Homo sapiens: one gene and its partners. The protein of the gene in region 1 interacts with the protein of each later gene in a pairwise test. Each region holds a gene or a part of one and is shown in the gene's direction. Other genes may lie near its edges.

What was found.
Region 2: the proteins of CCDC146 (region 1) and TNR interact in a two-hybrid assay, tested with the Homo sapiens proteins (one large-scale study listed by BioGRID).
Region 3: the proteins of CCDC146 (region 1) and SYCE1L interact in a two-hybrid assay, tested with the Homo sapiens proteins (one large-scale study listed by BioGRID).

The regions. Positions count from the first base shown.
Region 1 is NC_000007.14:77,258,582-77,262,233, forward strand, and holds part of CCDC146 (coiled-coil domain-containing protein 146), read left to right. Parts: intron 1-413; coding exon 414-487; intron 488-1,427; coding exon 1,428-1,655; intron 1,656-3,539; coding exon 3,540-3,652. UniProt on the Homo sapiens protein: Essential for sperm flagellum biogenesis and male fertility.
Region 2 is NC_000001.11:175,733,534-175,737,185, reverse strand, and holds part of TNR (tenascin-R isoform 1 precursor), read left to right. Parts: intron 1-3,652. UniProt on the Homo sapiens protein: Neural extracellular matrix (ECM) protein involved in interactions with different cells and matrix components.
Region 3 is NC_000016.10:77,205,803-77,209,454, forward strand, and holds part of SYCE1L (synaptonemal complex central element protein 1-like), read left to right. Parts: intron 1-638; coding exon 639-698; intron 699-2,407; coding exon 2,408-2,467; intron 2,468-2,662; coding exon 2,663-2,737; intron 2,738-3,294; coding exon 3,295-3,342; intron 3,343-3,614; coding exon 3,615-3,652. UniProt on the Homo sapiens protein: May be involved in meiosis.

The DNA.
Region 1 (3,652 bases):
AGGTGAACTGTAGACTAATAAAAGTGTCCTGAGAATGTAGGCTAGGCTAAGCTATGATTTCAGTAGGTTAGGTGTATTAAATGCATTTTCAACTTAAGGTAGTTTCAACTTACAACGGGTTTATTGGGACGTCACTCCATTGTATGTGGAGGAGCATCTGTACCTCCATAAAGGGAATCTGGGCAGAGGACCAACAGTATTTGCTACACTCAGTTACCTCCTCTTCAAAATGATAACAAATATAGCTCTCTTACAAGGTCACCGTGAGTATTAAATGGGATAATTAAAGCACACAGGGCAGATGGTAAGTATCTACATATTGTAGTTCCTTTCTCTCTCATATTTAATTTTCTTGTCTTAATTGCTTCTAGCCGAAGACCGCATAATTTAACATGATTTCGTTTCTTTACTAGGATGAAGTGGCCCACCATCAAACCATTCCAGTACAAATTGGAAAAGAGATAGAAAAAATAACACGCAAAAAAGTGTATGATTTAATATTTTTACTTTGAATCCCTGCCAGTCCAAGTTATGTGTGCACACTAGAACAAGAGTACTAACCATTGGACACATTAAATTACTATGATAATTTTAGAAATTTCTGCTTTGGGCCCTGTCTAGGTTGTTTATATCAAGTTCTTTAAAAGAAAGTAATGCACCAAATTTCTATCATTCATAGTATTTATGGCTTAATTATGGGTCAAGATTCTGTTGCCAATTTATAAATCATATTTTTATGGAGAAGTTCAATTGACTTTAACAGAGCGGTGCATGGGATAAATTATGCGAACTGGTTAGAATTTCATAGTCTAGAAGTATATCAGCCAGGCAGCAGCCCAAAGCCCAAATAATAGTAACTCCCCACTTTGCCACCCATTCATGTGTATAACACTCCTCAGATATTCAGAGTAGATTGGGAGGCAGAGGTCATTGAGGAAATTCTCAGTGTTTAAGGAACCAAAAAAGATAAAGATTTTAAGTGAAGATACAAAAATTCTGGAAAAATAATATAATTACTCTGGTGACTAATCTTAAGGGGAAAAATTAGGCAGGCACTAGTAACTGTTCTAAAAACTAAGCTCACCAACATCAAAGTTGAGAAACTCAGGTCAGTTTCAGGAGGCTGGTCAGGACGAGGGTTGAATCACAGGAGATGGTAGCAAATTGGGATCTGCACAGAAAGTAGGGAGGCTGGGCAAATTCCTGCCTTCCGTGGCACTCAGTGGAGATACCCTCCAAGTCCCACCCATCTGTGGTCTTTACCCACTGCTGAGATCATTGAATTTATGACTATCTCTTCTGCTGCATGGTTAGAAAGCAAGAATAGGTAAAGCCAGCATGGCCTCAAAATAAGGCAAGTGTGTGTGTGTGTGTGTGTGTGTGTGTGTGTGTGTGTGTGTGTGTGTGTGTGTGTGTATCCCCTACAGAGAAATGGAAAAGAAAAAAATTGTCTTGGAACAAGAAGTCAAAACGCTAAATGACTCCCTAAAGAAAGTTGAAAACAAGGTTAGTGCTATAGTGGATGAGAAGGAAAATGTAATAAAGGAAGTTGAAGGCAAACGAGCCTTACTTGAAATCAAAGAACGAGAACATAACCAATTGGTCAAGCTATTGGAATTAGCCAGAGAGAATGAAGCAACTTCATTAACTGAAAGGTTAGTTATATTTATGTATGTTATGTTCTGTCATCTAAATTTTTCTTCAATTTATATTTGAGAATTCAAAATCTCACTTTGGTGTTGAGTTAATAAATATTTAAAAATAATTTTAAATCAACTTTTACCCTTAATATATTATCAAATAAAGCACTTTGAAGTATTTTTTGATACTTTACTCAAATTTTCTCAATTTTCTGTTACCAGATTTTCAGGATATAATCTGTTGTATGTTGTAAGTTTCTGAATGTGCCTTTGGAAAATTTATCACTGGAGTATGTTATGTTCAGGGATTTTGCCAACAAATGAATGATACTTCTTAGGCCATCTTGACTTTTTTCTAACAGAAGCAATTTCGTGGTGTAATTCCCTAGGAGAGTTTTATGTCCTGCTTTTTTGTTTGTTTTTTGAGATGGAGTCTTGCTCTGTCGCCAGGCTGGAGTGCAGTGGCACGATCTTGGCTCACTGCAACCTCTGCCTCCCGGGTTCAAGTGATTCTCCTGCCTCAGCCTCCCGAGTAGTTGGGACTACATGTGCGCACCACCACGCCCGGCTAATTTTTTTTTTTCTTCTCATTAGAGACAGGGTATCACCATGTTGGCCAGGTGGTCTCGATCTCTTGACCTCGTGATCCACCCGCTTTGGCCTCCCAAAGTGCTGGGATTACAGGCATGAGCCACCGCGCCCAGCCTATGTCCTGCTTTTAAGTAAAATTTCAAGGAAACTGGAGGCTTCTATCTCTGCCAGTCTGTTATTTTTTTGGGGGGTGGGGGTTATAAGACTGCAGTTCTAAATGATACCAACTCACAAACCTAGTTGCCTTTGGCATTATTTACAATTTATGATTCCAACATGAGAATAGTCATGTGTGTATATACTGAGCATGCTGTCTTTTATTAAACTTTTAAGTTCAAGGTTACACATACAGGTTTGTTATAGGTAAACTTGTGTCATGGGGGGTTGTTGTACAGATTATTTTGTTATCCAAGTATTAAGCCTAGTACCTATTATTTTTCCTGATTCTCTCCCTCCTCCCATCCTCTACCCTCCAAAAGGCTCCAGTGTGTGTTGTTCTTCTCTATGTGTCCATGTATCCTCATCATTTTGCTCCCACTTATAAGTGAGAACATGTGATATTTGGTTTTCTGTCCCTGCATTGGTTTGCTAAGGATAATGACCTCCAGCTCCACCCACGTTCCTGCAAAGGATATGATCTCATTCTTTTTATTTTATTTTTTATTTTTTATTTTTTGAGACGGAGTCTCGCTCTGTCGCCCAGGCCGGACTGCGGACTGCAGTGGCGCAATCTCGGCTCACTGCAAGCTCCGCTTCCCGGGTTCACGCCATTCTCCTGCCTCAGCCTCCCGAGTAGCTGGGACTACAGGCGCCCGCCACCGCGCCCGGCTAATTTTTTGTATTTTTAGTAGAGACGGGGTTTCACCGTGTTAGCCAGGATGGTCTCGATCTCCTGACCTCATGATCCACCCACCTCGGCCTCCCAAAGTGCTGGGATTACAGGCGTGAGCCACCGCGCCCAGCCCTCATTCTTTTTTATGGCTGCATAATAGTCTGTGGCATATGTACCACATTTTCTTTATCTGGTCTACCATTGATGGGCATTTAGGTTGGTTCTATGTCTTTGCTATTGTGAATAGCACTGTGATGAGCAAATGTGTGCATGTGTCTTTAGGATATAACAGTTTATATTCCTTTGAGTATATACCCAGTAATAGGATTGCTGGGTCAAACGGTAGTTCTGTTTTTAGGTCTTTGCCAGAAGAGATTGGGAGCCAATATTCAGCATGCTGTCTTGATAAGTTTTGAAAAACATTTAGGACAGCTGATAACAAAATCATTTTCTTCTTCTTCCTTTACCTGGAACAGAGGGATCTTGGATCTCAATTTACGCAACAGTCTCATTGACAAGCAGAACTACCATGATGAACTTTCTCGTAAGCAAAGAGAGAAAGAACGAGATTTTCGAAATTTAAGAAAGA
Region 2 (3,652 bases), on another chromosome or scaffold:
TAAAACCAAGCTCTTGAGGGGTTCAGAGAGGCTAACGTGCTTGCCCAAGGCCACACAGCTAGTAGGTGGCAGGGCTGGTTTTCAACCAAATCTGTTTGGAACAGAGCCTACTTTGTGTTGTTGTTGTTGTTATTTTTGTTTTTCTTTTTGCTTTGCTTTGTTTTTGAGATGGGATCTCACTCTGTTACTCAGGCTGGAGTGCAGTGGTGTGATCATGGCTCACCATAGACTCTACCTCCTGGACTCAAGCCATCCCTCCACCTCAGCCCCCTGAGGATCTGGGACTACAGGCATGTACCTACATGCCCAGCTAATTTTTTGATCTTTTTTTTTTGTAGAGATGGAGGTCTTGATATATTGCCCAGGCTGGTCTTGAATTCCTGGCTTTAAGTGATCCTCCCACCTTGGCCTCCCAAAGTATTGGGATTATAAGCAGAAGCACCTGGACAGAGACTAAGTTCTTCCACTCTCTCTGCTGCTTGTATCTTAGTCATCCCTGCTCTGGGCCACATGTACACAGAACCCATGGGGCAAAGGCATCAAGAAGCAAGACCTGGGGAGTTATTAACAGGAAACTGGACTTCAAATTCCTACACATCCCCTCTTTCCCTCACCCTCCCTCACCCCCGAAAAGCCTATAGAGATCATCACATCTTTTTTTTTTTGAGATAGAGTCTTGTTCTGTCGTCCAGGCTGGAGTGCAGTGGCGCAATCTCGGCTCACTGCAAACTCTGCCTCCCGGGTTCACGCCATTCTCTTGCCTCAGCCTCCCAAGTAGCTGGGACTACAGGCACCGGCCACCACGCCCCACTAATTTTTTGTATTTTTAGTAGAGATGAGGTTTCACCATGTTAGCCAGGATGGTCTCGATATCCTGACCTCGTGATCCACCCGCCTTGGCCTCCCAAAGTGCTGGGATTACAGGCGTGAGCCACCACGCCCGGCCCACCACATCTTCCTTAAGTTTTTTTTGTGAGAATTAAATGAGGCATGAGTACAAAGTCCCTGGGACAGTGTCTGTCATGGAACATGTCCTCTAGCCCAGATTGTGCCACTTGCTATTTAATATGGCCTGGGGACTGGGTGCAGCTTGGGGTACTTGGTGTTTCAACAAGCTAGCAATTATTGGGTTGACCCGAATTTTATATGCTCCTCAAGTGCTAATGGGTTGGGTTGGCCCTTGTTTTACATCACCTTGATTTTAGAAGCATGTGTTGGCTATTTTTTCTCCTACTCTTTTAGTACCAAGAGCCAATCTGATATTTTTAAATACCTGAAAGATGCCTCTTCCCAATTAATTACCTTGAAATTGTACTAGACTGAAATTAATTTGAGCCTTAAGGAGGGTTTCCGAGCCCTATTCTGCAGTCAGCCAGAGACCATGAACACTTGGGTTTCCTTTTTTCTACCTTCCCCTCCCTCCAGGTTCTTCTACCATTCTGAATTTTATTTATGAAACATTTTCCCTTCCTTTATAATTTTGTTTTCCATAAGAAGAACATCTAACAACCACCTCCTGGCTGGGCTAGAGTAATTGTTTGAATTTTTTGACATTGTGCAATTTCAAAGGCTTGAGTTTATATAGATTACTTTGAATTTATCTCCACAAGTGCATCGGGACAGAAGCTGCTGCCTGCTTCGTGAAGTATTGTAAGGCTTGTGGCCACTGAGTGCTGGCGTTTGTGTGGATAGCCTGTTTATCTAAATGGATTTCTGTAAAACATATACCCTAATAAGCCAGATTTTGCCAGCTTGTCCTGTGTAAGTACCTCATGATGTCCCCTGTGAATTTGTCAATACCAAGGTCAGCTGTGGTGGCTGGGCCCAGGGACAGGTGTGGAGAGCAGATCAGCTGACAGTCACGGTGCCCTCTTTCCCTCCTCCCAACTGGCCAGCTGTGAGCCAGGGGTGACAGGGCACAGGCAGACAGAGGAGAGGGCAGCGCCAGGGCTGGAGAGCCCATGTCTATCCAGGTGCTGGGAGGAGAGATGTCCAGCTGGGCAGACAGACAGGGCCCTGAACACCAGATGAAAGCCCTGCAAATGGCTGTGTTGAAAAGGGCAGAGGCCAGAGCCACCTATAAAGGGACTGTCTCCTCACGGTGACCCAGTCTGTGCCACAGAGAGATGGAACTTATAAGGCAAGCTGTAAAGCCTCCCATTCAAAGCCGTATATATTTATAGAGATATAAATGAAGTTTAATGCTGGTGAAACTCACTATAAAAGCAAAATACTTCATCTGTATCTACACTTCAGGTGCAGATCAATACAGGGCTTCCTGTCTTTCTGCAAATGAGAGCTGTCTGTGAGCACGTGTGCCCACTCGCTCACACGCAGCCCAGCTGCCTTGCTCTGGAGCCAGCCATGGGGTGGGAGGGACAGAGGTCTTTTGAGCATCTGCAAGTGAGGCGCCCAGCAATGATGCACTCCCCTTTTCTGCGAGGGCTGTTTAAAAACAGGAAGAAAAAAGAGAAAAAGGGAAAAGCACTGCCAAAACCAAGCGGCTTCAAACAGTCAGAAGCCTGGCTTTAAATAAAACAATTTGAGGCAGGTCAGCTTTTCATCTACCTTGGAAGCTGCCAGGTTCCTGCTCCTCAGAGCTCCAGATGGGATGTGACTGCAAAGCCCACCTGACCAGCTCCACCCTCTAAGTGTCTCCGCTGACCTTGCATCCCCTGCTGCCCATGCTGGCCAGGCAGAAACAGTCGATGAAACTCTGCCCAACAAGAGTTTGAATCTTGGCTCTGCCACTTACTAGCTGTGGAGACGTGGGGAAATCCATTGACTTCTCTGATCCTCAGTTTCCTCACCCATCAAATGGGGTAAATAGCTCCTACCTCTCAGAATAGCCATGTCTTTTAAATGAGATGTCATTTTCTACAAAAAGACTTACAACAGCCCTTAGCACATACAGATTCTGCAATTAATAGAGAACTCATTTTTTGGGAATTTCAGGCAGGAAGGGTGTATTTTGAGGCTGGAGATCAGGGGCACAAGGTTGCCCTCATCTATGTCAATATATGTTGACATACATTCTCCCCATGGAGTGGGGAGGCCCTATTTGGCCTGAGGCTGGCTGCAGGAACAAGACATTGCATTCTTGAGACAGGCAGTGGCCTTGAGCCCTGTTCCCTTCTCATACTGTCACCAGCAATCCCTGGCTGCAAGGCCTCTGAGCTCAAGGGAAGGTTGGCTGACCAAATAAGATAGCTCTTATCTCCATGAAGTTGCCCTTGGTGGGCCTGGCTATGTCCTCATAACTGACTCCCTCACAAGGCAAGAAGCAGGAGTGTAGCTCACCAGGGCATGGTTTCCCTGGGAAGTGTGTCTTGGGTGACTAGGGATGCCCTTCCAGACTGGACCCTCGAGAGGCCAGCAAATCATGCCAAGGGCTTAAGTTTCATTGTGGGCCACCCTCCAACCAGGAGCGGGGCCAGGTGAGATGTTCTGGAGGGGAGGAAAGCATGCTGTTGATCCAGACCCTGATCTGTTCCGAGTAGGGTGTGGGGAGGAGACCACTATCAGTCAATCTCTCATTAAAAATGGTCTGAGGCACTGTGCCTGAGTTATTAAAATGCAAAGCAAGAGTGTGCCATGCCCTCCCCTCTACCCCTACCCCTTTTTTTCGTTTGTGTTTTGTCAGCTTAATTTA
Region 3 (3,652 bases), on another chromosome or scaffold:
GTTCCTTCATCTAGAGGCTCATAGGGAGCACTCCCCAAGGCAGCTTGTAAGTGCATCCTGAGCTGCAGTCCTCAAACTTAGCTGAAACAAACTCTCTATATTAAAAATAAAAATAAAAATCCTTTGAGCTGGAGCTGCAGGGTATAAAAAGAAAAAGAGAGAGGCTCATAATATCCAGTTGTCTTTTTTTGATGTTAGTAGCCATTAGTAACTATTACCTAGATCTATCAGTTCATTAAGAATTTATAAATTATGAGCTATTATTATTTCAAAGAAATTCATATGAAATCTTCCTGCCCTATTGTTCTGGTTAGAACTTCATAATGATCTTGAACAGCAGCATCAGCAAACATGCATTCTCTTCTCTCACCCCTGAGTTTCATTAAGGGGATGTTTGTGGTGGTGTTTTTTAACCCCTCAGGGAGAAGCTGACCCTTAGGGGTCCTGATTTATCTAGCACACACTATAAACCTCAAGGGCAAGAGACGGGGGCCCTGCTTCAGATGGAAACCTGTCTGTCATTCCATCCTTAGCCCCAGCCCACGGGTGTCTGCAGAGCCCACTGGGACTTCCTGCCTCCCTTCTCTCTCCCCTCTCACTCTCGCTGTGTCCTGTAATTTTGATTTTCCTTTCTACAGGGCAAGCCAAGTCTTTGAAGACTGAAGACTTGCTGGCAATGGTGATAAAGCTGCAGAAAGGTCATGTGTCTCTTTGTTTCTGAGCCTCAGCCTGGGGTTTCAAGTCAGAAAGACATGGTACAAATTCAGCCCCCTGAACTCACAACCTCAGGAAATTATCCCATTGCACTTTCTCCCTCTTATACAGTTTAATTCTTTGAACCAAGAATACAGTCCCACAGTTCAAAATTCAAGAAGTTTAAAGGAATGGAAAAACCAGTTCCCCCGCCATCCCTACTCCCTCCCCCCACACACCAGTCATCTATTTCCCTGACTCATGGGCAAGCAGCTATTGTTTTTCAATTCTTAAGTATCTTTCCAGAGATTTTTAAAAAATGCATTCATGGATGTATATTTTTTGTCCTCCCTTTTTACACACAAATGGAAATGCAGTTGGTTTTGCACCTTGCTTTGCTTTTTGCGGGAAACCTGGGAGCCAGTGTGCACCCAGTATCTACATCAGAGCTGAGGCAGTGCTGGCCAGAGGTGAGACCCCCAGCCCATTCTCATCTTAAAATACTATCACGTCAGTCTATTCCAAACAAAAGCAGCAGCCTCCCCGCTCCCATTCTGTGGCTGCCTGCAGAAGAAGTGCACTGGGACTGCTGCCTACGGTAAAATTAGGGAGAGAAATTGCAGGGCTAGAAATGCAGTGATCCAACCTGATCATTTCCAGTAAAACAAAGACCCCCAGAGATTTCTGTCAGTCATAATCAGCACCGTGGAGAGCACCCACTCTCCTGGAAATCACAGAAGCTGGAGTTGGTGACCTTGGAAAAATCCATGGTCTGAGTTTATTAACCCCAGAGTGTCTGAGGGGTCAGCAGTGAGATCTGGCAAGGGTTGGACAGCTTTTTGCCCCAGTTCCGTGTTGGCAACCTTGAAGCCAGAGAGGGATGAGAAGGAAGTCTTCTGCGTACAGAGCACTGAAACAGGGGCTATGAGAAGTTAGAGGTGATTCCCTAAAGGGATAGTGATCACCCTGTCACTGGGAAACTTGCAAGCTGCCACCAACAGTGTAAAAGCAGGGATTCCCCATTTCTCAGATGAGGCCAGTACCAGAGCCCAGACTGACAGAGTGACAACCCTTCCTGCCTGGATTTTGACAGGGCGGGGCAGATGGGACGTCTCCATTGGCTCACACCACACTCAGAGTTACATCTAAAGGCTTCCACGGTGGCCCAAGAGGCCCTAGTGATATCACTTCCCACTTCCCCCACCTTACTTTCTGCTACTCTCCACTTGCTCACTAGACCTGAGCCACACCAGCCCCTCACTGTTACTTTGGACACGTGCCTCACCCGCTCCTGCCACACTACAGGGAATTTGCACTTGTTCCCTCTGCCTTGTTGCACTCTGCCTGGAATGGGTCCCCCCTCCATACTCTTTACCCCCACAGAACTGCAGGACCTGCTTCCTTCTTCTCATCTGGGGCCTTTGCATATCCCCAGACATGCCTTTTACCCTTTTGCTCTTCAACACTTTGCCTCACTTTATTTCTCTTCACAGCAGTTACTGCCACCTGAATTGATTTATTTATCTTTGCTCAATGTCCATCTTGCCAACCCAGAATGCAAGCCCTTCAAGGGGCTCTGGCAGAGCTCAACACACAGCAGGCGCTCAATATATGCCGGTTAATTGATAGCAGCAGACACAGTGCTTCTCCGTCTGCCTTGGACAGCCAGACACCAGTCTTCTCTGGCTCACTCTTTCTTCCTTTCTTTCTTCAGAGGGAAGCCTGGAGCCACAGATAGAGGACCTGATTAGCCGGATTAATGATCTTCAGCAAGGTAAACTTGGGGACTTAGACTGGCCAGCTGGGGCGAGCAGGAAGTGACTGGATTTATAATGAATCCACCTCCTCATCTATAAAATCTAGGCCCCTCTAGGGTTGTTTGAAGATGACTGTGCAATGTCATATTTGCGAGAGAACAGCAAGGCTAGAGACTACACTCATACAGTGTCTTTTTCCCTTCTTGGCCCAGCAAAGAAGAAATCCAGTGAGGAACTGAGAGAGACCCACAGTCTCTGGGAGGCCCTGCATAGGGAATTAGACTCCTGTAAGTGGGGCCAAAAGAGGGACCCATCAACACTGCAGATGTTCCTGTGCATACCTCAGGGCCTTTGCACAGGCTGCTCCCTGGCCTACAATGCTCTTAGCTCACATAATCTGTATTGCCTTTCACTGTCTCATGTCATCTTTCAGCTCTCAGCTCAAATTTCACCCTGATAGGCCTATCTTGATGGTCTCATCTAAGAATAGAATCCCGCCCTCTCTTGGTCATTCTCACGCCCCTGGCTGATTTGTTTCTTAAGAGCCTTTATGTCCACCTGACACTGTGTGTGTATTTCTTTATAGCCATCTTTCTCCTCAGTGTAAACCTTGTACATTCTTCAGGGTCTTCACTCCTTCAACATTTACAAAGAATGTGGGCATAGAGGGGGAGAAGCTGGATCAGGATGGTCCTTCTGGGAGATGGTTGCAAGGGTGGCAAGAAGATACCTCACCTCTCCTAGGGCTGTACTACACCTTCTGTGTGGCTTTCCCCTTATATGAAGTTGCACTGGGGATGGCAATGGGGTGCCTGGAGGCAGAAAGTGTCATTGTGTTTTCCAGTGAATGGAGAGAAAGTGCACCTAGAGGAGGTCTTGGGCAAAAAGCAAGGTATTTACCAGTTGCTGTGTCTTCCTTATTCTACTCTTCCACCCCACAAAAGTCTATGCTCCTCAGAGCAGCCAGAGGAATCCCACTGAAACCTAAGGCAGGGTGCTTCCCTCTCTGCACAGATCTCTTCCTGGATTGCTACATCACTTGGAGTAAACACCCAAGTCCTCACAGTGCCCTCCAATGCCTGACATGATGTGGGGCCTATTACCTCTGGCCAACCCTGACTCCCCAAGAGCTCTCAAAGGGTCCCCTTGGTTCCTTCCCCACAGAGGCACTGAGGATCCTCCAGATGCACTGCCAAGAGAAG